3 linked regions of the Homo sapiens genome follow. The protein of the gene in region 3 interacts with the protein of the main gene of each other region in a pairwise test. Each region holds a gene or a part of one and is shown on either strand. Other genes may lie near its edges.

Region 1 (7,037 bases), on a different chromosome or scaffold from region 3:
TAATCCTTTGCCAGCAGTCTGTGGCCTCCTAGCTACTCTTACTACTCAGTCCCCCTCTGATGTTCAGGTCTCACTGGCCTGCACAGATATTTGAACACACTCCAGGCAACCAGCCAGCTCATTTCATACCTCTAGTGGGCTTGCTGATGTTTTCGAAAAGGAGAAGCCCTTGCTAGCCGTGTTTATGTGGCTTACTGTTTCCTACCTCCCATCAGCAGACTTGCACACACGTCCAAGGATTGATTCTGGTGTCTGAAATGATCTTTCGAGGTGAGACAGAGGCTTTTTCTTTGGGCATCTAGTTAACCAACCTGTCAGTGTCAGACTACTAGTATAACCTGGCCAAATTTAGAACAAACCAACCCCCATTGGTACTTCAAAACGGTGACAGTGTTAGCATTCTGCTGTGCCCCTGTGCCAACTCTTCTAGTACTCGCCGTGCACATACCTTCAAGAAACCTCTTCCTTCCCATCTAGGACCTAATCCGGAGAGACATCCTGTACTACAAAGGCCGCATTGACATGGATAAATATGAGGTAGTTGACATTGAGGATGGCAGAGATGATGACTTCAATGTCAGCATGAAGAATGCCTTTAAGCTTCACAACAAGGAGACTGAGGAGATACATCTGTTCTTTGCCAAGAAGCTGGAGGAAAAAATACGCTGGCTCAGGGCTTTCAGAGAAGAGAGGAAAATGGTACAGGAAGATGAAAAAATTGGTAAGTGACCTGAGAGTAGAAAGAAGAACATGGCTATGAAGAACATAGGAGGTTTGAATTGGTTTCCATTTTCTTGGAGTCAGAGGGAAGATTTCTGTTGCAAACTGACTTAAGCTACTTTGGTGGTTCCTTATTATTAGGTTCTTTTTGGTAAGTACCAATAGCTTCCATTAGTCAGTGGTAGGTTTGAACTATAGGTTGTCCTCCCCTACTAGCTAAGAATATCACACTGAAAGCCAGCCTCAGGCTTGATTCTCCCAAACATACATTTATTAGCAAATAAACAAAAATCAGTTATACAACCTGTTCTGTAATCTTCATAAAGCCTGAGCTCTCTGTCATTAGGTATATAGTTTGTACTCCTGATTAGGATACTTCAGATGTTAACTAAATCCCCCTAGACTGTAGATTCAAATAATATGCACATACACTTCACACTTTCTGTGTGGAAGTATTTAAAGTAAATTATAGAAAATATAACAGGACTTAAAACCATGACCATTTTCATGATTTCAAATCACACTGAAACATACTTTTTTGCCTTACAATAAGTTGTTTCTCTTTTCCAGTGGGGATATAGATAGTAGAGATATTTTTCATGTTGCTTCCCAACTGTGGGATTTAGACGCCATTGGCTATAGCTTTGTGACTTATAAAGTACTGTCTGGTCTCTTGCTCATGGTCCTGCCTTTCTGTCATAAAAAATACCAAGCAACCAGACTTGTTAATTCCCTGAGAAGACATACAGTTTCTGTCTTTGCCCTATTGCTTATGGGAGTGAAATTGTACTTTAGAAGGCCTGAAAGCTCAAGTTTATGGAAATTGTCTCTAGAAAAATGGGCCTACTCATTGAATCCTGGTGCAAAAGGGTTCTCTTATCCTTCCATGTGGGCGATTGAAATTATCCAGAGGTAAGAAAGGATGGTCAGAAAGACAAATCTAACTCCAGTCTTCTCCTCAGAACTTGGGTAGAGTGCAAATTAATAACTCACTTTGAGTCTCATTGGAATCAGACTGCTTTCAGTATGTGGACACTCCATTGGGACATGATGTGGAGTGGCATATAAATGTTGCTGGCTACTTCTCTCAATAGCAAGCAGCAGCAGCCACTGACCTTGCCTAGGCTGTTAGAGTTATTAAAGGAATGGTCTTAGTGTTCAGACCCTGAATCAATTAGAAGGCCCCTGCCATTCCCATTGGCTCTAACACAATGTCTCCCACACAATGCCCTAATAAACCTGTGACTTTATCTGCTTCTAATAGAAAAGCTTCTAGAAATTACTTTCTGAACAGGCATATGTTCATCTTTAAAAATGTTGAGGTTTTTTTTTTTTGGTTTGATAATAACAGTAAATCACTTCCATTGTAGGAAATTTAGGGAAAAAGCAACAGAAAAGTACAAGAAAAAAAAAAAACACATGAACATACTCAGTAATAACTTTCATAAACATTTTGATATATATTTCCAGCCTTTTTTATGTGTCTAATTAGAAAAATCAAGGTGACTGAATCTTTTTTCTTTCTCTCCCCATACCTGCCTCTCTATAGTGGATAGATATAATTTTGTATCCTCATTTTCACTCATCATTATATCATTAGCATTTCTATCAGATCACTTCATATTTTTAATCATTATTTTATGAGGGTCATATAGTTTTATCATAGCTTTTTTAAACTTTTACTTTTTAATTATAAAATTAATGCATGACCATTATAACCATTTAAACAAATATGGAAATATATAAAGAAAACTTAGCATTCCTTCCCCTTCTCTGTCACTTCCATACTGAATGAAATAACCAGTGTTAACAGTGCAGTATGCATCTTTCCATACTTATCTCATGTCCATATAAACATATACAAACATAATACTTTTATATTTACAAAAATTATATTATATATATTACCTTGTAGGTTGCTTTTTTAAACTTAATTTATCATAAGTAACTCCCCAGATAAATAATATAGAATCTAACTATAACCCCTTGTATCAGTTAGGGTTCAACCAAAGAGGCATAACCTGTAGGAGATATATCATACCACTGCTGAAAATTGCATTACAAGGAATTGGCTTATGTGATTGTGAATGTTGACTAAGTGGCTCAGAATTCCATAGAGCAGGCAGTCAGAAATGGAGGATCACAGGCAGGCTCAAACCCATGGACATAGGCCAAAGCTGTCATCTACAGGCAGTCAGGAAGAGAAGCTCATGAGAAGGATGAAGTGGCACAGACATGGGCTAAAGCTGTGGTGCACAGGTAGAATTTCTGCCCTTTCTGTGTGAGACCTAGGCTCTACTTTTAAGGTCTTGCAACAGATTCAGTCAGGTCCATCCAGATTATCTAGGATATTGTCCCTTATATAAAGTCAACTGATTAGGGCCTGTATTAGCCCATGTTCACAGTGCTATAAATACCTGAGACTGGGTAATTTATGAAGAAAAGAGGTTTAATTGACTCACAGTTCTGCAGGCTTAACAGGAAGCATCACTGGGAGGCCTCAGGAAATTTAGAATCATAGTAGAAGGCAAAGGGGAAGCAAGCATCTTCTTCACATAGTGGCAGGAGAGAGAGAGAGCAAGAGGGAAGTGCCACATACTTTTAAACCATCAGATCTCGTGAGAACTCACCCACTATCATGAGAACAGCATGGGAGAAATTCCCCCCATGATCCAATCACCTCCCACTAGGCCCCTCCCCCAACACATGGGGATTACCATTCCACATGAGATTTGGGTGGGGACACAGAGCCAAACCGTATCAGGGGCTTTGATTATATCTGTAAAATACCTTCATGGCAACACCTACATTAGTGAGGACTACAGTCTAGTCGAATGGGCACATCAATAAATTCATCACACTTTTCTTATAAACAGCTGTATAACATTCCATAATATTATGTAATAACCACAGTCATCTCTTGGTATGCACGGGATATTGGTTCCAGGACTCCCGTGCATATCAAAATCCATGGATGCTCAAATCCCTTATATAAAATGATATAGTATTTACATATAACCTATGTACATCCTCCATATACTTTCAATCATTTCTAGATTATTTATAATACCTAACACAATGTAAATGCTATGTAAATAATTGTTATACTGTATTGTTTAGGGAATAAAAACAAGGCAAAAATCCATATGTGTTCAGTAAAGAAGCAACCAGCCGCTTTTTTCTGCATATTTTTGATCCACAGTTGATTGAATCCAGATGTGGAACCCATGGTTACAGAGGGCTGACTGTTCGTTTTTTGCTAGACATTCATTTTATATTTAGCTTTATTTCCCACTACAGATATTGCTGCAATAAATATCCATGTACGTATCTGATTGTTACTTACTGATGCTTTTATTCCTGTAGGATCTGTACCCTAAAGTGGAATGACTGAATGTTAGGATGTGAACAGTTTTAATACATACTTGCATATTAAATTCTGAAAGATTTGTAGAATCTATACTCCTAGCATAATTTTATGAGTACCCACTTCCGCATAGCCTCACCAGCACTGGATAGTATCTATTTGTTTCAGTTTGCCATTTCTCAACTAGTAAATTGAAAAAAAGTGTTGGAACCTTTTTTTTTTCATATGCTTAATGGCTATTTTCATTTCTTTTGTGAATTGCCTCATACCCTTTACTCATTCTTTTAACATAAATTTGGAAGGACTCTATATTGTTGATGTGACACTTTGTCAGTCACGAATTTCACGTTTTCACCAGTCTGTTTTTTGTCTTTTGAGTTTGTTTATATTGCCTACTTCTATAAATATTTAAATTTTTACTTTGAAAAATGTATCTATTATTCCTTTTTTGGCCCCTAGTTTCATCTTGCTTAAGATCTCTTGCCATCCAAACTATAAAATTTCCTGATTAAAAATATATTTTTGGTTTATTTTTAGAACAGTAATCCATCCGGAATTTACATTTTTATATGATGTGAGAAAGGGGACCTCATTTTTTTCTTCAAGGTGGATAGTCAGTTGCATCTGCATCATTTATTAAATAAATCATTTATTTTCCACACAGTTTAAATGCCATTTTTCATATATAGTAACTCTGCATATATACTTAGATGTGTTTTTAAACTTTCTATTCTGTTCCACTCTTCTGTTTGTCATTTCTTGTATCAAGACTATGCTGTTTCAATTACAGTAGATTTTGAGAAAGATTTAATGCCTGGTACAATCAATTCTTATTCACTCTTATCATTGCTTCTTAGCAGTTCTTAGATGTTTATTCTTTGATATGAATATCAAATTTATTTATTCTAGGTTTAAAAACACTGCCGTAAAAACTGGCATAGAAAGCCCATTTGGATTCTGATTGGCATTATATTAAATTTTTTAATATGTAACGGCTTGGCATTGTTATTAAGTTTTCACATTTAAGACAAGGCTCTGCTCTCCTTTCATCAAAATCTTGTTCTGTATGCTTCAGGAAAATGGTAGAGTTTTCTTTAGATTCTGTACATTTCTGCCTCTTTGTACATTACTTTTGATAATTTCTATTTTTCTGGGAAATTGTTCATTTCCTCTGGATTTTTAATTTAATGCTATATATCTACACATAATATTTTCTAATTATCATATCTTCCATAATTGTAGTTATCTCTCTTCTTTTGGGTTCATAATATTTCATATATTTTTATTTTCTCACTTTAATCTTTTAATCAGGCTTATCAGGGAGTATTGATCTTTTTTATGTATATATAATCATTATACATATTTTTAAGGTACATGTGATATTTTGATACCTGTATACAATGTGTAATGATCAAATCAGGGTAATTGCGATATTCATCACCTCAAATGCTCATCTTTTCTTTGTGTTGGGAACATTCCAAATATTTTTTTTAGCTATTTTGAGATATACAATAAATTATTATTAACTCTAATTTCCCTACTGTCCTATCACAAACTAAATCTTATTCCTTCTAACTGTGTTTTTGTACCTATTAACCAGCCCCTCTCCATTGACCTGAGCCTTTCTTTCTGAGCCACTGATAATCACCATTCTACTCTCTATCTTTATGAAATCCACCTTTCAGCTCCCATGTATGAGGGAAAATAATCTTATTTCACTTAACATAATATCCTCCAGTTCCATCCATGTTTCTGCAGATGACAGGATTTCATTTTTTTATGGCTGAATAATATAACATCGTGTATATATGCCACATTTCCTTTATACATTAATCCACTGATGGGCATTTAGGTTGATTTCATATTTTGGTTATTGTGAATAATGCTGTGATAAACATGAGAGCATAGATATTTCCTCGGTATATTGATATCCTTTCTTTTGGATACATACCCAGCAGTGGCATTGCTGGATTATATAGTAGTTCTATTTTTAATTTTTTTAGGAACTTTTCTACTGTTTTTCTATAATGGCTGTACTAATTTACATTTGGTCGTTTCAAAGAACGTGTTTTTGGTTTGTTTATCCCTTCTGCAGTTTATTTCTGTTTCTTCTTAATTTTCACTTTTATTTCCTTCTTTTTCCTACTTTCAGGATTTAAGGAATATTTTAGATCCTTTCCACTCTTTCATTGACTGAATACTTACTTTGTTTATTTTGATTTTTACAAAATCAGAAAATCATTTTAGACATGGGAGGGTGTATGTGTCGAGGAATTTGTCCATTTCTTCTAGATTTTCTAGTTTATTTGCGTAGAGGTGTTTATAGTATTCTCTGATGGTAGTTTGTATTTCTGTGGGATCAGTGGTGATATCCCCTTTATCATTTTTTATTGTGTCTATTTGATTCTTCTCTCTTTTCTTCTTTATTAGTCTTGCTAGTGGTCTATCAATTTTGTTGTTCTTTTCAAAAAACCAGCTCCTGGATTCATTGATTTTTTGAAGGGTTTTTTGTGTCTCTATTTCCTTCAGTTCTGCTCTGATCTTAGTTATTTCTTGCATTCTGCTACCTTTTGAATGTATTTGCTCTTGCTTCTCTAGTTCTTTTAATTGTGATGTTAGGGTGTCAATTTAAGATCTTTCCTGCTTTCTCTTGTGGGCATTTAGTGCTATAAATTTCCCTCTACACACTGCTTTGAATGTGTCCCAGAGATTCTGGTATGTTGTGTCTTTGTTCTCATTGGTTTCAAAGAACATCTTTATTTCTGCCTTCATTTCGTTATGTACCCAGTAGTCATTCAGGAGCAGGTTGTTCAGTTTCCATGTAGTTGAGCGGTTTTGAGTGAGTTTCTTAATCCTGAGTTCTAGTTTGATTTCACTGTGGTCTGAGAGACAGTTTGTTATAATTTCTGTTCTTTTACATTTGCTGAGGAGTGCTTTACTATGTGGTCAA
Region 2 (4,704 bases), on a different chromosome or scaffold from region 3:
CCAGGGGGCATCTTGATGAGGACACTCATTAGCCAGGAAGGTGTCAAGCTCTGCTTTCAAAGGAAGGGCAACTTACGTCCATTTTTCTTAAGGAAGGGTCTTAACCACTGAGGCTTACATAAATTTAGAGCTACTTATTTCCCCCATTGAAAAGGAAGTGGTAATATGACAGGAGGAATTTATTTTAGAACTACCTGACATGGTTGTGAGCCACACACGTGACTGCACCTGCAGTCTCTTCTTTCCTTGGAGAACTCCCAAAAGAAGAGGACAGAGATTTTGCCTAGGCTGGGGTGGGCACATGCCTACATGAAACAGGGACAAGTCTAGAGTAACTCTAGAAGGGTCCTCAAGAGGCCCACCTCCCTTTCAGGGCAGAAATTCAGCTGCTGGTCTCAGGGAAAAGCCTGTCTTGTTGTGTGGGGCATCCCCAAACACACCACATTTTAAGCAGAAATAAAAAATATTTGCTGGCAAAGTGGGGGTCAGAGAAGAGATGAGAGCACATCTCTAAAAAAGAAAGGCACAGCACCCAGGTTCTAGTTCTTGACTTTAATGCCCTTGGAGTGTACTGAGGCTCAATACACCAAAGCACTCACAGACAGGTACATGAACTCACACAGGAAGTGTTATAGTGTGTACATAAACCCAACACCATACAGAAGGAAGACGACGGACCCAGGTGACCTCCCACACTCGAGGTGACTGCCTGTTCCCATACTCACTGTTTGTTCCCACCTCCCTCAACCCCTGCCAACCCCCATCCTTCCCCACTCAGTATGTATATACACAGATATGATTCTTTCAGAATTCCAAAAAGTGCCTCTCCCACCCCAGTTCCCAACACTACAGCTTTGGATGAAAAAAGCCTCTCTCTTTTAAGGATCATGAGACAGGTACCACCTTCACGCAAGAGCCCCAGCAAAATAGTACCCAAGAAAGCTTAATAATGTATATTGGAATCAAATATGGATAGAACATATGCAGAAGGACAATATTTGAAATATTACTAGGATCAAAACGCTCAGCATCAGTAGTTTTTGTTTTGTTATTGCTGTTTGCTTTAACCTGTTCAAGAGCTGGTTTAGACCAAGACCACACATGGATGCTCACACCGCCTGTGTCTTATAAATGTCACTTCCTATTCCTCCAGCAAGCAGCCCAGAACAGGAAGATTATATCACCTGATAAGCCTTAGGCACAAGGCTCAGACAGCTCCCAGAATATCCTAAGCCCCAGGAAAGAAGAACAGAAACTTCCAGAGTACAGCTGACTGCTTTCTGCATGGTAAGCACTGGGCAGCCTGGTGAACAAGGCAGAGGTAAAATAAGGAAGGTGATGATTCCTTCCATTTATTTAGAGTGTTACGCTAAGAATTCCTCTCCTGGAGTGGGATGCATTTCAGTGTGGTTTTGCTTCAGTCTTTTTTTGTTGCTATAACATTAGCTTTTTTATTTTTAAGGAATTTTGTTATGGCGAGCATTGCACCATTGGTCCCATCTCCTGAAACTTTCACTTTGCTTTGACTCACTGATAACTACTGGCCCGTCTCAAGGCAAGATGAATCCAGTCCCTTGTCAAGTGAGAGGGATTTACTGACATTATGCACAACAATTCTATAAAGATGCACTTCCTTATGATCAGGGAGAAGCTTTCATCCTTTGGAGCCTTCCTTCCAGACCCAACCCTTCTTCTGTTCTGGGCCTGGCCATTTAGAGTTGAAAAGGGATCAAATGGGGAAAAGTCACTTCCACAGGGATAACCCCTTTATCTGGAGGCCGTTACCACAATCCACCACATCTAATTGCACTTTTCAGCCTGGCCTTGGTTTCTCATTAGAGAATGGCGAAACTAGGCCACTGAATTCCTTCACTCCATTTAGAAAGAGCTCTCAGCTTGCTGCCCAGTGTCACCTCTCTGCCTGTTCTACTGGCCCAGAGCCTTGTGTCCTACAGTGGCACAGAATACATTACTGTGAGGATCACAAAGGGAGTCAGAGAAACAGGGATTTCTCCAGCGAGAGAGAGGAACGGTGTTCTTACCCAGCATCCCTGTAATCCTAAGCAAGCCTTCAGGACCTGTTTTTGAGCAAACTTGCATTTGAGCAAACAAGTCTCTCAATGGCTTGCATGTATGGACTCTAAATAACCAAGCCCTGCCATGCTCCATGGGAGAAGGGGGAAGCAGAAGGGGTCAAGGCCACATTACTGAAAGCAATGGGCTTAATGAACTGCTCTCTGTTCACACAGACTTTTTCAATAGTCTGCCTCTCTGTCAAAAAATGAACACATATTAGGCAGTAGGTAACACCAATCAGAAGAACCAAAATGAAAGCCTTTTCTCTTAGAACAATACAAGAGCCATGTTTTGGGGCTAACCTCCAAGCAGGGACATCAGCTCCAGAAAAGAGACTATCCCTTTGTGTACGAGAACAATAGAGAGAGCGCATATCTCAGAACGTGAATGACTATCCTTTCCTCTTAGATCTCAGTATCCACCTCTTTTCCACCTCTAAAAGAGTACAACAGGAGTGCAAAACCACGCCCTGGAATCTTTGTTTACACATAGGGAACAGGAGATCACTGCCGTCCAGCCCCACGGAGGAATTCAGCCAAAGTCCCAGGGCTTGGTCTTCTCTTCCTCATATGAACACAGACTTCAGCTCCCCTTATACCCATCTTGTCTATCTGGTCCTGTAAGTCTGATACCAGTGAGGCTGTCCTCCCCAATTTATTTATTTATTTATTTATTTTTACGATGGTGTTGCCCAGGCTGGAGCACAGTGGCTAGCCACAGGCACGATCATAGTATACTACAGTCTTAATCTCCTGGGCTCAAGTGATCCTCCTGCCTCAGCCTCCAGAGTAGCTGGTACTACAGGTGTGTGCTCGAGTGGCCTGGACTACAGGCGTGTGCCCAAGTAGCTGGGACTACAGACATGTTCCTGGCTCGCATCAATTCTTTACACATTAAAAAAAAAAATCTCCCTTTACCCAGGAAGAGACAGGTACAATCATGATTAGAGAGAGACACCCTTAATGCAGCATGGAAATGTTACATTGTGATCAATGGTGCTACACAGTTCTTCCTTTAGGAGATGCATGTCCAGACCCTGACTAGTTGGCCTAGGCTGTAGACAGAGCAAGAAGGAAATGCAGTAGTAACAGATCCTTGGGGATCTTTTTCAATTTCTGAAATAGAGGAGTAAGTAAACCAAAATATACAGGAGTGAGGAGTAAAACAAAATATAAAGAAGTGAGTAAAACAAAAATAGAGGAGTGAGGAGTAAAACAAAAGGGAAGTTTTGTCTTCCTACGGCTCCTAGGATAGCTGTGTGTCTCACCCAGCCCTTCCTTTACCTTCTCAGAAGAGAGGCTCTCCTAGAAGGAGAATGTTACCAGGACAGAGGAACAGGGTTTAAAGAGAGGGGGTCCCCTTCCAAAGAGGTTCACCACAAACTGGATTCTAACACATGAGATAGCAGCCAAGGAGGTGTTCTGAGCCTCTAAAAAGGATGTTACATGTCAAAGATAACAGAAGATCTAGGCATCTTGCCTGCTTGACTTGGGGAATCTTCAAAAGAAGCCTCTGAAATTTGCATTCCAGCCCTGTGAGAAGATAACCCTGCAAGCAAGGAAGGTGGTGGAAGATAAGAGAAGCCGCGGCCCTAAGACAGGGCTGTAAACATTGTGGTTTTCTAAGGCCAACTGGGTGCATAGCTTTGGCAGCTATGGTTAAATCTCCAAAAGGTGGTGAAGAACATGTTCCGGAAGGAAAAGAAAAGTCTTTCCACATTTTGGGAATGTGGGCAACTATTCTTGGAGGAGAAGGGGTGCAGTGGGAGAGAAGATGCTCTTTCTTCTTCAGCCAGGGGCTATGGGGTGGCTGGTCAGGTAAATCCCCCATCATGTTCCGTGTTCACACCAATATACTGAGCACAAGGGAGGGACGCTTGAACAGGGTTGAGGAAGTGATTAGGCCTACATCGATTTGGTAACGTGGCTCTAAAATGGGCAGAAACTCTCTTGCAAGGTCAAGAAGGTGACAAAACTTCTCGGGACTTCCTGGTCAAGCCCTAGCTATCAGCCTCAAGGAAAGACTACCATGCCTTGAGGAAAGGCCAGGTGAGCGCTGGCTGGAGTGCCTGCAGGCCGCAAGCCCTGAGCCCAACCCTGAGGTGCAGTCAGGGAGATTGGAGCTACACCTCTGTCCCCTGGGAGCTGTGCCTCAGGATGCTGTTCTCACCTCGGCAGATTCTGGGGCAGTCAGCAGCCCCTTCAGGGATCTTACTCCCAGAGCCACCAAGCAAGGTGGACATCCTCCCTGATGGGACTCTCGCCTACCGGGGCTACTCACCACCATGTGATCTTGAACTCATAGATGGGGCGCTTGCAGTAGTAGTGGTTCACGAGGTGCTTGTCACACACCCCGATGCACTGGTGGTCCACGGTGAGACCCTGGGCCGAGAGGTCCGTGACCAGGCAGTGCAGCAGGTCATAAACATCAGCCACAGCCTCCCAGGGCCCAAAAGACACATCCACTTCACAGTGGTGCTCAAAAAGCTGCCCGTCACTCTCACTCCGCTCAAATCGCAGGGAGTTGAGGAGCGGACACTCATAGGGGGTGATGGGCATCTCCTCCTTGAAGACACAGACCTTGAGCTTGGCAAAGCGGGCCTTCCGCTGGACCGCACGCAGCCGGGCG
Region 3 (7,037 bases):
TGTTGCCACAGACATCTGAATTGGTAAAATGGCAGTAAGTGCTTTTAGTACTCCATCGTACTAATGGTTGTTTAGAGTTGAAAAATGCCTCTAAATGCTATAAGTCTGAACTTTGTCCAGAAGATCTGCATTCCCTATTATCTGATCTGTTAGCCTTTGAAATTGTATATCTTCAGCTATCTTCAGCTATTAACTATTTGTATACTGTATGGAAACGAGTATCCTACAGCCAGGTTGGAAAAGGGGTTACAACTGGAGTCCAAATTCTGTAAAGTTTCTGCTGATGTCACCTGGGTAGATAGACCCTTACATTTACAGGAGCTTCACAAATTAGATTAAAAGCGGACTGTAATTTGCTAGGAGCAGTTAAGTCCAGAAAGAGACTCATAAGTAACCACATAATTTCTGAGAATGCTTCCAGGACTCAAAGGGTGATTACATCAAAATTATTAAATTGAAACTGAGAACTCTGGATACCACACCTCCTAATCGTTTGGGGGAGACTAGTTCCAGGCTTAACTGTTATGCTGCCATCAAGTAAACATAGAAGCAATGTGTGGTAGATGTTCTTACCCATCAGAGGAGGAGCTGTGAGTGTGTGTGTGTTTCTCTTTGTTTTTTTGTCCTTAAGTTAGCTGTGGGACTTGTGGTTATAGAGTAAGAAGGGTAAGTAACCGTCTAAAGTGTCTAAAATGATGGGATGGGCCCCTAGTAGGACATTGTATGCTTAAAATATTTGAAACTCCTCTTGAGTGCATGCATCTTATTAGGATTACAAAACTCAAGCATAGGGGCTTGGGCTCACTGTCAAGAGTTTCAAAAATAATGTTGGTAAAGAACAACGTATTAGGAAGAACTATTTCAGGAATTTTTTCCATCATTTCCTAAATGTTTATCAGTATGGAGAATTTTGAAAGTATCAGAACCAAGAGAGTAACTACTCATAAATGTCAAGAACCTGATCCATGGTGAAATTTTGGTTTCATTGCGGCTAAAAGAATTTCCAGTGTGCAGCCTCCAGTTTTGGGAGTGGAGAAGCACATCATAAGAGCAAATGTCTAATACTTTATTGAAACCTACAACTGCTGGAAGAAGATGAATATGAAAGGAATTTAAGTGTTTATAGTTTGTTTTTCTCATTAGTCTGTCTTTGAGAGTTTGGGATTTGAACAGATAGTGTTGCTGAAAGATGCAGACTTCAGTATACAATTAAATGACCTGAGAAACAACTGACAGGTGTTTGCTATGGGCTGCCTTCACAGATGCCTTCCAGGTTGCTTCATAGCAGATTTTGTTTCAACCAAACCTTTTAGTAGAGTCAAGTGAAAACTTAACGTTAACGACTAGCAAATGTATTTAGAGAACTAGATTTCTTTCATCACTTAGCAACAGCCCCTTCCTCAATCTGAGTTTTCTGATAGAAAGACATGATGCTTTTCTTCTGGATAATAGACAAATAGATGATTGTGTTATTGCATGTATGTGAGTGTGTATGTGTGTATTGCTGCAGTAAGGTACTATTAAATACTTAAATCTGGAGTGGTTTTTTTAAGTAAGTTATTTAAACTTGGTTTCAGCGCTGACAGACTAATGCAAACTGATTTCATCAGCTGGTCTGTCCCTTATGAACCAGGATAGTGTGTAGTTTAGTCAGCTGTTTAAAAGCAAGATCACTGTCAGCAACTTAGTTGCAAAAGTTTTGTGTCTGCACAGTGATTTTTCAATGCTTTGTATTGTGAGCTCTTAGAGTAACTAGGTGGTTGCTGGATTACCACTGCAGAGTAGCTTATAGGTTCTTTGACTGTTTCTTCTGGTCTCTATTGTCTGGAGCATGTTGAATTTCGAAGGCCATTGTGAGAGGCTGAGTTTCTGAAGTGTAAATGTTTGGTTTTAGGCCCATGAAGCTTCCCATCACCAACAGCAGGCAGCACAGAACAGCTTGCTGCCCCTCCTGAGCTCTGCCGTGGAGCCCCCTGATCAGAAACCATTGCTTCCAATACCAATAACTCAGAAACCTCAGGGTGCACCAGAAACATTAAAGGATGCCATTGGGATTAAAAAAGAAAAACCCAAAACTTCATTTGTGTGCACTTACTGCAGTAAAGCTTTCAGGGACAGCTATCACCTGAGGCGCCACGAATCCTGCCACACAGGGATCAAGTTGGTGTCCCGGCCAAAGAAAACCCCCACCACGGTGGTTCCCCTTATCTCTACCATCGCTGGGGACAGCAGCCGAACTTCGTTGGTCTCGACCATTGCAGGCATCTTGTCAACAGTCACTACATCTTCCTCGGGCACCAACCCCAGTAGCAGTGCCAGCACCACAGCTATGCCAGTGACCCAGTCTGTCAAGAAACCCAGTAAGCCTGTCAAGAAGAACCATGCTTGTGAGATGTGTGGGAAGGCCTTCCGAGATGTGTACCATCTCAATCGACACAAGCTCTCCCATTCAGATGAGAAACCCTTTGAGTGTCCTATTTGTAATCAGCGCTTCAAGAGGAAGGACCGGATGACTTACCATGTGAGGTCTCATGAAGGAGGCATCACCAAACCCTATACTTGCAGTGTTTGTGGGAAAGGCTTCTCAAGGTACTGCATTTTGCTTTGCTTTGCTTTGCTTCATTATGGTATCAGTGTACTTCAGTTTTGTCTCCATGTGATCTAGAATGTTTATGTGAGAACAGATGTGGGCAGACCTGTGTTATTAGAGGAGATTGGTGATAGATAAGTATTAACACCTCCAGGTCTAACCTCAGTTTGGTGTGATTGACAAGTGGTGACATAGTGATTAACCTGTTTTTTTCACTTAACAAGTGCCTCGGTGGACTCAGGCTTTCATTTGGCACATGGATACTTATCACTGCAAAACCACCAGTTTTCAGTTCAGTTGGGGGACTAGACATGAGGCTCACTGGGCAAATTAAAGTAACATTTCTTGGAAGTTGGGATGACCTTGGATACTCTTAATTAAACTTTTAGAATGTTTTTTCATTTTTCTGAGAGCACCAACATTTCACTAATTTTCATTTATAAAAGCTTTTAGAGTTAATATAGTGGTAGCTGTTTCTGGCAAGTGTTAAGACTAAAACTTCGGGTATTTTGTAATTGTAAAGAATCAAGACCTAATATGATTTGATGTTGACTAGGAGAGAAAATTAACAGGTAGAGGCCTAAGACTTTGTTCATGGTAAGAGAGGGAAGGAGACTTGCACCGGGGGAGGGAGGTTGGTAATTCTGCTAGCTTTCCCTAAAATGCACCCCTTCCCAATCTGCCAAGCATGTGAGCATCACATAAGTAGCATTTCTCTATGTGTTCGATTATATCTTCTGTTGAAACTCTCTTTTTCACAGGCCTGACCACTTAAGCTGTCATGTAAAACATGTCCATTCAACAGAAAGACCCTTCAAATGCCAAGTAAGAGTTAAAATGACTTATCCTTAGTGTAGCACTTAATGCACATTATCCAGAAGGTCTGAGCCAGTTGAATCTCACCATTCTTGAATAGTCTTAAAATCACTGACCTGAGTAAATGTGGCCCATTTGACTTCTAGTTTTATAAAATATAACTGACAGCTTCTGTTTCTGTAAAGCAAGATCATTTAAAAATTTAAGCGTGTTGTTTTTTTTAAGCTATATTTCCCTTTCTTTGGGCAATAGTATTTTTTGTTAGGAAAAAAAAGTTACAGTCTTGCAAAGGTGGTTGTGTATTTGAAATGAATAAAAGAATAAAGGGCTTTAATTTCTGGGTTGATTATTGAAGTTGTTTTAACTGTAATAGGAGAAAATAATGAATTTTTCTCCCAAATGTTACCACTTACTAGATTTTTGTTTGTTATTACCAAATTGGAACACTTTCTAGTTGTTTAAAAATCTATTCCAGTTAATGATTTTATTTGACATCAATTATAATAACGAAAACATTAAGAATTTTGCTAAATCAAATGACTGTTTTAGGCATTGGTAATTTTAGTTTGTTGCTGGAAGTCTTTTAGTACACCTTTCAGTTAAGTTTGTTAATGACTGATTTTATTAAGTAAATGATTTGAATGCTAAGAAAGATCTAATTGGAGGAAGGAAGCTAGTGTCATTGAGTGAGTGCCTGCTGTGTATACCAGGCTTTTCTTAATCCACCAGTAATTTTGTGAGAGATGTTATCCCCATTTTACAGATGAAGAAGCTTTCAGATAGGTTAACCAACTTGTTCAACATTACACCATTTAGTAAATTGTGGAGCTCAACTTAAACCCAGGTTTAACTTACCCTAAAGCTTACATTTTTTGTGCTACTCTGTGTTGATGTATTTTCTTCCTTCAAAATGGAAGAGTCTAAAATTTATCAAGAGTTTTATTATGATTATGATTCTAGGTAACATATGCAATTAAAATTCAACTAGTTGTCAGCTTGCTGATGTGGATAGGGTAATGCACAGAATATAACGTACTTCAAAATGAGTAGAACAGGATAGTCTATATTTAAAAAAAGTTTTCCTCCCTCATGCAGACGTGCACTGCTGCCTTTGCCACCAAAGACAGACTGCGGACACACATGGTGCGCCATGAAGGCAAGGTATCATGTAACATCTGTGGGAAGCTCCTGAGTGCAGCATACATCACCAGCCACTTAAAGACTCATGGGCAGAGCCAAAGTATCAACTGTAATACATGTAAACAAGGCATCAGTAAAAGTAGGTGGTGCTTCAGATTTTCTTTCTTTTATATTTCAGATGGGTGAAATATGCATGTTTTCATATTGTATCAAAGGTATTAATATTCACCTTACGTGTTTCCTCCTATTGCCAACATGTGCAAACAGGCAACAATGGACAGAGTATATTAATGTCAGAACTATGCTTTACTTTCATGTATGCAAACAGCATTGATAAGCTAATAATAACCTTTAAGGTGAAAGCAGTATTAATAAGCTTGCTTTTCAAACCCAAATCTGTAGAGAAATGAGATATCATATCCACTTGAAGGTTTAAATGCTTTGCTTGCCTTAAATTCAGAGTTGAAGATAGAATACTTGCATTTACCCAGGCTTTTTCTTTTAAGATTGCCCTAACCACTAGAAGAAGGCATTTTCCTAATCCTTTATTCTATTATATATGTACTTTATGCAGTAGAAACATCAAATTCTCAAAAAAATAGGTGGCCACAAGAGAATGGGGAAGAAAGCTTAATGTGTGTTAATCTATCCATTTTTACTTCTTTGTAAGTACACTGGGTTTGTAAGTACACTTCTTTGTAAGTACACTGGTATGTTGTACTTTATAAGCATTCACTTCTGTTTTTTTTGTTTTTTTTTTTTTTTTTTTTTGAGACGGAGTCTTCACACTGTTGCCCAGGCTGAAGTGCAATGGCACGATCTCGGCTCACTGCAACCTCCGCCTCCTGGGTTCAAGCGATTCTCCTGCCTCAGCCTCCCAAGTAACTGGGATTACAGGTGCACACTGCCATGCCCGATTACCTTTGCTACTTTTTTTGTATTTTCATAGAGACGGCGTTTCACCGTGTTGCCCAGGCTGGTCTCGAACTCCTGAGCCCAGACAGTCCACCTGCCTCGGCCTCCCAAAGTGCTAGGATTACAGGCATGAGCCACTGCACCCGGCCTATAAACATTCACTTTTAGTGTACATTATTGTGATCAAATAAAAAATTTTGTTGAATGTTGATTAGTCCTATATTAATAATATCAAACTTCCATTTTTAAAGACACTTGCTTTTTTTTTTTTTGATGGTTTTTTTTTTATAGCAAAGAGTCCTTTTCTCTTTTATATTGATTTTTGCTAGTTCTCTAGACTTTTTAGTGCTTGTTTATTTTGACCAATATAGACACAGCAGCAAAAAAGATGCACTTACTAAGAGCTATCAGGTTAAATGGTTAAGATCACAGAAGCATGAGAAGTCAATTTTGAAAAAAAACGGCAACAGTTTTACAGGTAGATACAGTGTTTTTGGTTTGTCTTTGTAATAGCATGCATGAGTGAAGAGACCAGTAACCAAAAGCAGCAGCAGCAGCAGCAGCAGCAGCAGCAGCAGCAGCAACAACAACAACAACAACATGTGACAAGCTGGCCAGGGAAGCAAGTAGAAACACTGAGACTGTGGGAAGAAGCTGTTAAAGCAAGGAAGAAAGGTAAGGCACAGCTTCCAGTGTTGAAAATATGGCTAGAGAAGTGTTTTCATTTAGTATGCCAAGTGATCAAAGTAGAGAAGCCACAGTTTTAGGAAATCTAGCTTAATGGAAACATGGAAATAGTGCATGCTGGGAAATATCTGGTAAAGTATAGTTATTGGCAATAAAGTGTCCAGATAAGTTATTACTAGGAATTAAAAGTTCTCAGTACTTCCTATCATGTTCTTTCTTTTGATGTACTTTTTGCTACAAACCTGGATCCAAATTTGGTCCTTTGCTATGCTCAGAGTTGCATTTTTATATTCAATTTGATGTCAACCTCCATGCATTATGGGCTTTTTTTTTCCTTTCTAAAATATTCCCACTTTTAGAGGTGGATATCCTTGTGTGTACATAAGTTCATTTTCTTACAACTGTGCTATTTTTGCTCTGTAGTGTTCTTTTTCATTGTATTATTTATTACATGTTTCAGATTCTGTAGTGTTGATGTCTTTTCTCTTGGTCACACCCTTAATCTCCTTCAGTCTATCACTGGCTGGCCTTAACATATCTAGTCTTCTGCTGCTGAGGACTTTACTGTAATTGTTTAAAAAATTTTAAATGGTTTGCTTTTCTCTCGTGTATATTTTCTAACGAATCAGTTGGAGTATCAGTTTTCAACGTACTTTTCAACTTACTAGTACAGCTTTGGCTTCTGGACTATTGTGCAGCCATTTCAAATGAATCATTTTGTCAATGTATCATGAGCCAAAGGACAGATTTGTAAATTCCTTCTTCCTCCTCCACCTCTACAATGTCTTACTATGTTAAATGTTAAGGAATCCTCTATCTGTGGGCTCCTCTGTATGTAATTCCTTTTCTGTGTAGTTTCTTCCATCTTTTGCTTTCATGTAGTGTGGCT

The links. Proteins that work in one complex are often made in the same cells at the same time.
Region 1: the proteins of VEZF1 (region 3) and ARHGEF9 interact in binary tests that used the Homo sapiens proteins (3 or more experiments, as listed by UniProt).
Region 2: the proteins of VEZF1 (region 3) and KCTD7 interact in binary tests that used the Homo sapiens proteins (3 or more experiments, as listed by UniProt).

The regions. Positions count from the first base shown.
Region 1 is NC_000023.11:63,649,178-63,656,214, reverse strand, and holds part of ARHGEF9 (rho guanine nucleotide exchange factor 9), read left to right. Parts: intron 1-477; coding exon 478-721; intron 722-7,037. UniProt on the Homo sapiens protein: Acts as a guanine nucleotide exchange factor (GEF) for CDC42. Promotes formation of GPHN clusters.
Region 2 is NC_000007.14:66,638,881-66,643,584, reverse strand, and holds the end of KCTD7 (BTB/POZ domain-containing protein KCTD7), read right to left. Parts: coding exon 4,353-4,704; 3' UTR 3,192-4,352; coding exon of another isoform or gene 3,191-3,191; 3' UTR 538-3,190; downstream 1-537. UniProt on the Homo sapiens protein: May be involved in the control of excitability of cortical neurons.
Region 3 is NC_000017.11:57,978,251-57,985,287, reverse strand, and holds part of VEZF1 (vascular endothelial zinc finger 1), read left to right. Parts: exon of another isoform or gene 1-28; coding exon of another isoform or gene 29-34; intron 35-1,894; coding exon 1,895-2,589; intron 2,590-3,351; coding exon 3,352-3,415; intron 3,416-4,483; coding exon of another isoform or gene 4,484-4,501; coding exon 4,502-4,685; intron 4,686-5,974; coding exon 5,975-6,136; intron 6,137-7,037. UniProt on the Homo sapiens protein: Possible transcription factor. Specifically binds to the CT/GC-rich region of the interleukin-3 promoter and mediates tax transactivation of IL-3.